2 linked regions of the Homo sapiens genome follow. The protein of the gene in region 1 interacts with the protein of each later gene in a pairwise test. Each region holds a gene or a part of one and is shown on either strand. Other genes may lie near its edges.

Region 1 (3,600 bases):
TATAGGCAGGAAGTTAAAAAAAAAAAAAAAAAAGGAACAGAAAAACCTGGACAAATAGAAAGTACAGAATGAGATAATAAAATCAAATTCAAATAGTTTATTATCATGAGAAATGTAAATGGACCGAATTTACCAGTTAACAGACAGGATTGTAACACTTCTAATTACATTCCGTTTTTTTTTTTTTTTTTCAGACGGAGTCTTGCTCTGTCACCCAGGCTGGAGTGGAGTGGTGCGACCTCGGCTCACTGCAACCTCTGCCTTCCGGGTTCAAACGATTCTCCTGCCTCAGCCTCCCGAGTAGCTGGGACTACAGGTGCCTGCCACCACGCCCAGCTAATTTTTTGTATTTTTAGTAGAGACGGGGTTTCACCGTGTTAGCCAGGATGGTCTTGATCTCCTGACCTCACGATCCGCCCGCCTCAGCCTCCCAAAGTGCTGGGATTACAGGCGTGAGCCACTGCGCCCGGCCTACATTCTGTTTTAAGACCATGACTAAAGGCCAGGCACCGTGGCAGGTAATTCCAGTGCTTTGGGAGGCTGATGCAGGAGCAGCACCTGAGGCCAGGAATTCAAGTCCGGCCTGGGCAACACAGCGAAACTGTCTCTAAAAAAATAAGAAAATCAGTCAGGTGTGGTGACAAAGGCCTGTAGTCCCAGCTAGTAGGTAGGCTGAGGCAGGAGGATCGCTTTGAGCCCAGGACTTCAAGGCTGAAGTGAGCAGTGACCACATCACTGCCCTCCAGTCTGAGACTCTGCCTCTAAAAAAGAAGGCCGGGCGCGGTGGCTCACGCCTGTAATCCCAGCACTTTGGGAGGCCAAGACGAGTGGACCACTTGAGCTCAGGAGTTCAAGACCAGCCCGGCCAACATGGCAAAACCCCGTCTCTACTAAAAATACAAAAATTAGCCAGGTGTGGTGGCGTGCGCCTGTAGTTACAGCTACTCAGGAGGCTGAGGCAGGAGAATCGCTTGAACCTGGGAGGCAGAGGCTGCAGTGAGCCGGGGTCATGCCACTGCACTCCAGCCTGGGCAACAGAGCGAGACTCTGTCTCAAAATAAAATAAAAAAGAAAAGAAAAAGAACATGACTGAAACACAAGGCCACAGAAAGGCTGAAAGCTTGTTCCAGCCCTTTAGAAGCCATATTATGATGTGGTAGAAACAGTCCCGGTCTCAGCCCTCGGGGGTCAAAGTCTGGTGGGAGGCACATGGGAACAACACCTGATCCCAGCCCTCCCTGGTCACAGTCTGGCGAGGGAGATACAGGACCAGGCCTGGTGTCTTCCTTCAAGGGTCACAAACTGCTCACGACCACCAAACCCAGTCCTGTGCTCCGGGGTCACGGTTTGGTAAGAGACACAGGAACCAGGCGTGGTCCAGTTGCACAGGTCAGCGTCTTAAACCGTTCAACAAAAAGCTATTCCCTCCCCCACGTAGTCCTGAAAACTGCAACTGGGGGACAGAGGAAAGAAAACGAATCAGAACTACAACCCTCGGTGCCAGCGTTTGGAAAGCCAGAGCCTCCCCGCGAGAGCGTGCAACGCCGTCAACCTGCAGGGAAGAGACGGATATTGAAAGGCCGGTGTCTGGCGTGCAGCGCTAGAACGGAACACAAAGCCGGTCAATCCGAACCAGAACCCTCCAGTCCCGCTGCCCAATGAGAAGACGGATCTTCTGTCCTCTGGACAACCGTGCGGTAGCTGGGGGTCTCGCGCAGGCGCAAAAGGGCGGTGGGGGGGGCGGGTGGCAAAGGGTCTCGCGCTGGCACGCCGAGGGCTGGCCGCGTAGCCGGGGAGAGCTGGGGGAGGGAGCAGGGGCCGGGTGGAGGGCACTCACCAAGGCGCGCGACGGCAGCGGCCTCCCACGCTGGCTCCGGGCTCTCTTTAGGCTGGGTCTCGCGCTCTGTCACATCCCTAGTTCGGGCTCATCCCCTAGTGGGTTCTCTTGCCTTACGGAGCGAGCCAATGGTGAAGCGAAGAAGGCGGCCCGTGCCGCTCCCAACCAATAGACACTCTCTTTGTACCTCTAGCCCCGCCCCCGCGCGTGGCGCCATTTTCACCTGAGTTAGGTTTGGGGTGGAGACTGGGACGCGCCAAGGTTAGTGGGCGTTTTGGATCCGTAGCCAATCTGCATCGAGTCCTGGCTTCAATTTCCCCATTCCCTTATCAGTCGATCAAAACGGGGACTCATTAAGGTCTGTACCCGCTTCTTCCGCTGGTGAAATTAGCGTTGCGTTGCATCCTTTCACCTCCGCCCTTTTCTAGGTAGAGTAACCCTTAGTATAATGCAACGAAACTGTTACAAGCAGATCACACGCTATACACTGCAACCACCCCCTCCCCAGCTCTTCAGTGCTCAGAACTCCTCAGTCCTAATAGCAGCGGTCATTCTCTCTTCTCCCGACCTCAAGTCAGAAGAACTAGTTAGAACCCAGGCCTCTCAGTCCTACTGACCAATTGGCATGAAGACCCTCAATCTCCATATGCCAGTTCTAAAAAGCCAATCAAACGCCTAACCACCAGTGGGCCCCCAGATGGAGCAATCAATCAGAATCCAGACCCATCCCAGACCTCCCATCCAATTAGAACCCACAACCCTCAGTCCTAAGGATAAATAGGCACCAACCCTTCATCTCTCTTGCTTTCTCTCCTCTGTGTCCCACTCAGAGCAACCAATCAGAATGGGGATCCTTCAGTTTTCCAGCCAATCAGGCCTCCCCCACATCCAACTATGCAATCTGTCCCTGCCCTGATCAAACCAAGCAGGACCAGGATCCTGCCATCTTCAGGCTCATCATCTAATCAATCATAAACTAACCATGAACCAATCACAGTCTGCTCTCTCTTCATGGTTTCCAGCTTCCAAACCTTTATCCATGCTGTGCTCCCTTCCTCACTCATTCCTATTCCCCTCTGAGCAGTGAAGAAGAAGCCTATTGAATATTTCCTACTTTTATTTGACAATAACAAATTGTATATAAAAAGGAAGAAGGAAGGCGGGGAGGCCCTGGATCTCCCCTTCTCTGTTTCCCCAAGCATCCCCCTCTAGGCCCCAGCAGGCACCACCCCCTTCCTGCCTTGTGGTGGGGTGGGGATTGACAGGCATGAAAATGGTGTGATTTTGTGTGTGTGTGTGTGTGTGTGTGTTGAGGTGTTGGGGGTCAAGGATGGAGGGGGTCAAGGAGTAGAGAGAGGGCCTTCCCTCATCCCCCATCAGTGGCACCCTGAGAGGGGTCTTAAGAGGGTTATGAGGGTCCACAGATGTGCCTCAGCCTATGAGACGGTAGAAGATCCAGCATCCAAAAGTGACCCAGTGACTGGCCCAGCTGAGCTCTGACCACTTGTGGACAGTGTATGCCATGCCGTAGCCCTGTGGGAGAGAAAGAGGTGATGGTCCCACTTAGCAAGGACAAAGAAGTTCTTAGGAAAACCCATCCTTTGCCCAAGGACATTTCTGTGACTGCTCTAGGCGAGGCCCCGCAGAAGGGCCTAGGTACATATGAAAGGTGACCAGATATAGTTTTTGTCTTCTTCTTTAAAAATCATTTTAAAAACAAAGTGATCCCATTCTCTGACCTGTTATCTCCCTAATATATAAAG
Region 2 (3,827 bases), on another chromosome or scaffold:
CTCGAAGGTCATTTTAAGGATCAAGAAACCAAAAGGAAGAAGATGTATATCTCATCACCTTAGTTTATTAGACTAGGTTGAGAAGCAAGTGAAAACGAAATTGTATTTGATTTATGTAGACTGTGTCTTCAGGCTTGGGAAATTTTCTATTATTGTAACATAGTCTTGAAGAGTCAGTGCAAGTGTTGCTGGCTTTGGACGAGGTGGCTTTGTAATTTTTTTACATGCTTCCAGTTCCTTGATATTGAGGCAACAGTATCTCCCATTTTCACATAGTGCCTCAGGCACTTCATTTACTCTGCAGATTTTCCTGCAATGTCCTTGTACATAGTTATTCCAGCACTTCTTAAGTTGTTCGGTTACTATACACAGAAAGGAGCAATAGAACAATATCAGTGTTTGAGACTGAAGGCACGTTGGTTTTGGGGAAGACAGAGGAGGCTTGTAGGAATTAGGGGTATGGGGTATCCACAAGGCAGACCCTCATATATTCTGAAGAGGATTTTCCGACAAGGTCAACCTCAGTGTTTGTATTTAACTGGATCACTTATATTTAGGTCCTGTGAGGTTTTAGGCCTCCCTTAACATCTGATAGACTCTGCCAAGAACATAAGATCTTATCTGAGAAAATAAAGGAGCTGAACCCTTGATTCTAGGCTATGGAACTATGCTCTACATAGGAACCTCAGCAAATCTGCCTGCATCCTGAATGCTCCCAGAGCACTACCTTCTACTGCACCTCCTCTGATGCCCAGAGAACAATGTATTGTTACTATGTGTTTATGTCTGAATCAAACTGTTCTCCTGAGTTCAAACCCACTATCAGGGTCAAGAATGACTTTCATGTTATCCAGTAAGGTAGTAGTCTATTGGGTCTTAGGAATGTAGAGGGTCAGGAATAGGCCATTACTATTCTTATAATAAGGGACACATGTAAGAAATCTGGTTTTGAAAGAGGAAAGGAAACTCTAATTTTTGAGTTCTCAGTATGTGCCAAGCTTCACATAGGTTATATCATTTAATAAAACCCCTGTTAACCAGGTGTCATTATCTCCATAGATGAGGAAACTGAGGCTCCTAGAGTCTTCACTACTTAAAGTTGACAAACTAGTAGATATTGAAGGCATGTTTCTTAAACCTAACTCCAAAATTTGCTTCTTCCTCTATTCATGCACACACACACACACACACACACACACACACATATATATATTTGAGTAAAAGGAAATATAGCTGAGCATCAGAGTAAAAACCATATCCAAAGACATAAAGGTATCCCTAGATATTGGCATCATTCCTTTCTATAACAACACATCTTTCCCAGAAGAAATTATGACCTCTTTTTAGCTCAGTGAGTACTCCTCTTTAAGGATAGTAACATGGAATAAGGCTCCAGAAAGAGGAAATTTCTGATGATGTTGGATAAACTTTAGCCATCTTTGGGGGCTCTATTTCCCTTTAGTGTGGATTATGAAGTTCCCTTTGGCTCCTGAAAATGCTCCATCCCACTGTTGATTTGAGTGAGCTTCTGGTTTGGTTTACCTGTGGGTTTCTGGAACAGCAGAATTGCAATGATCATGAAGAGCCCCATGGCCAGGCTTTCCAGAAGAGGTGCAGCCAAAGCTTTTGGTCCAGTGAACTGCACACTATGCTACCTTCCTCAGAGACTTAGATTCTTATGCACTGAACCAGAACAGATGGGATGATATGAAGTGTGTCCTTAAGCTTCTGAACTGTGAGCTTTGCATCATGCAGGCAGACACAGGAAATTTCAGGCCACCCACTTTACCCCCACATGGAATAGAGATACAGCATGTTCCATCCCATCGCACCAAATGCCGCTGTGTAGGCTGTAGACTGCTGGGAAGAATCTGTGATTTTCCTGCTTTGACTCTCTGCGCAGCCGGACCAAGATCGAAATGTACTCACCTCCAAGAATGAATGTGGCAGTATAAACCAGGACATAAATCTGAAACTCTAACAATAAGAATTTCTAGTAGGTTTCTTGCACATTTCGAAAGAAGGTATGATGTAGTTGGGTCTGATCTGAGGTCACCTGATTTTTTATAAAAGCACCAAGAACATACACTGGGGAAAGGATACCCTCTTCAATAAATCATGCTGGAGAAACTGGATTTCCATGTGCAGAAGAATATATATTATGTATATATATATGTACACACATATATACATATATATGCACACAATGGAATACTATACATACATAACACACAATGGAATATATATATATATATATACACACACACACACAATGGAATACTATTCACCCATAAAAATAATGAAATTCTGTCCTTTGCAACAACATGGATAGCCTGGAGGACATTATGTTATGTGAAATGTCAGGCACAGAAAGATTACCACATGTTCCTATTTATATATGGGAGCTAAAAAAGTTGAGCACATGGAAGTAGAGAGTAGTGTTGCAGATATTAATATTAGAGGCTGGTAATGATTAGGGAGAGGGGAGGATGGAGAGAGATTGGCTAATGGATGCAAAATTATAGATAGGAGGAATGACTTCTGGTGTTGTAGCACTGTAAGGTGAATATGGTTAACTACAATTTATTGTATACTTTTAAAAGGCTAGAAGAGAGGATTTTGAATGTTCCCAATACAAATGATAAATGTTTGAGGTGACGGATATGCTAATTACCCTGGTTTGATCATTACACATTATATGCATGTATTGAAATATCACTTTGTATCCTATAAATAAGTACAATTATGTGTCAACTAAAAATAAAAGGAAAAATGGCTAAAATGGCCAATGTTATGTCATATATTTTACCACAATTAGAAGAAAAAGATGCATGAGGGTATTTTTTTTCTACCAGTTGTACCTTGTCTTTGAAAATATTAAAATGTTGCCACAAGGAATCGATGTTTACCTAGATCATTCTTTGATCATTGATTGCAGTTTTCAAAAAATTTCAACCCTGTTAACCACTGAGATGCATTAAATAAATAAGCCAGTTGGCTTAGAGATGAGCCCTATGGCCATTATTCAGGTCACGTAGTGGTTTTACACAAGAATATGTTTAAACAGAGAGATGTTGACATATAAGAAATCCTTTTTAGAGGCAAATGTAAATTTAAGAGCAGTTACCTCAGAGGTCTCAAGGGTCACCTCCCTTTACTTTTGCCACCAGCTTTTACATGGTTTAAGTCCTAGTCAAGGGATTGGTTTTATTATTTATAGTCTTCCTGTGAATGCAAACTTTCCTTATAGGTGACTTGGTGGTGGAGCATCAAATAAAGACCCTAAGTCTGAGCAGTCAGGAGAAATACAAAAAGCCTTCCTATTAAAGTTGTATTTCTGAAGCTGGATGTTAAATTAGTAATAATAAATATAAGGATAGGAATGGGTCCTAAGAGCAAGGACAAATTTTTAATAAAACAAATAAAAATAAAATTATAATATTCATATTAGCAGAAGAACATATGATCCATCCAACAGAAACTAAAAAAAATGAGGAATAGATAAGTCACAACTGGAGGGCAGAAAAAAGTCCTAATAGATCAGTAGTTATAATACATTCACATGGCTTAAACTCACTGATTAGATGACAGAGATTCATTATTGGATTAAAAAAAGATTTCAGCAATATTAGACAATAAGACACATATATAGTAGACTGTTATTAATAGAATATAGTAGAATAGATATATTGAACAATGTATCTGGTGAAAATAACCAAAAAAGTTGGGTAAATGTAAAAAGGAAATTACTGCATTGAGAAACCGTCAAAAATGAAAGGAATCTGCACAGGCCAAAAACTAAGATTGCAAACCCTGAAAGATAAGTT

Evidence for each region. Proteins that work in one complex are often made in the same cells at the same time.
Region 2: the proteins of EBP (region 1) and DEFB127 interact in binary tests that used the Homo sapiens proteins (3 or more experiments, as listed by UniProt).

Annotation. Positions count from the first base shown.
Region 1 is NC_000023.11:48,520,145-48,523,744, reverse strand, and holds the start of EBP (3-beta-hydroxysteroid-Delta(8),Delta(7)-isomerase), read right to left. Parts: upstream 1,938-3,600; 5' UTR 1,838-1,937; intron 47-1,837; 5' UTR 1-46. Other genes in the region: PORCN (protein-serine O-palmitoleoyltransferase porcupine), read right to left, coding at 3,269-3,370. UniProt on the Homo sapiens protein: Isomerase that catalyzes the conversion of Delta(8)-sterols to their corresponding Delta(7)-isomers a catalytic step in the postlanosterol biosynthesis of cholesterol.
Region 2 is NC_000020.11:155,309-159,135, reverse strand, and holds the start of DEFB127 (beta-defensin 127 preproprotein), read right to left. Parts: upstream 1,683-3,827; 5' UTR 1,592-1,682; coding exon 1,543-1,591; intron 363-1,542; coding exon 112-362; 3' UTR 1-111. UniProt on the Homo sapiens protein: Has antibacterial activity.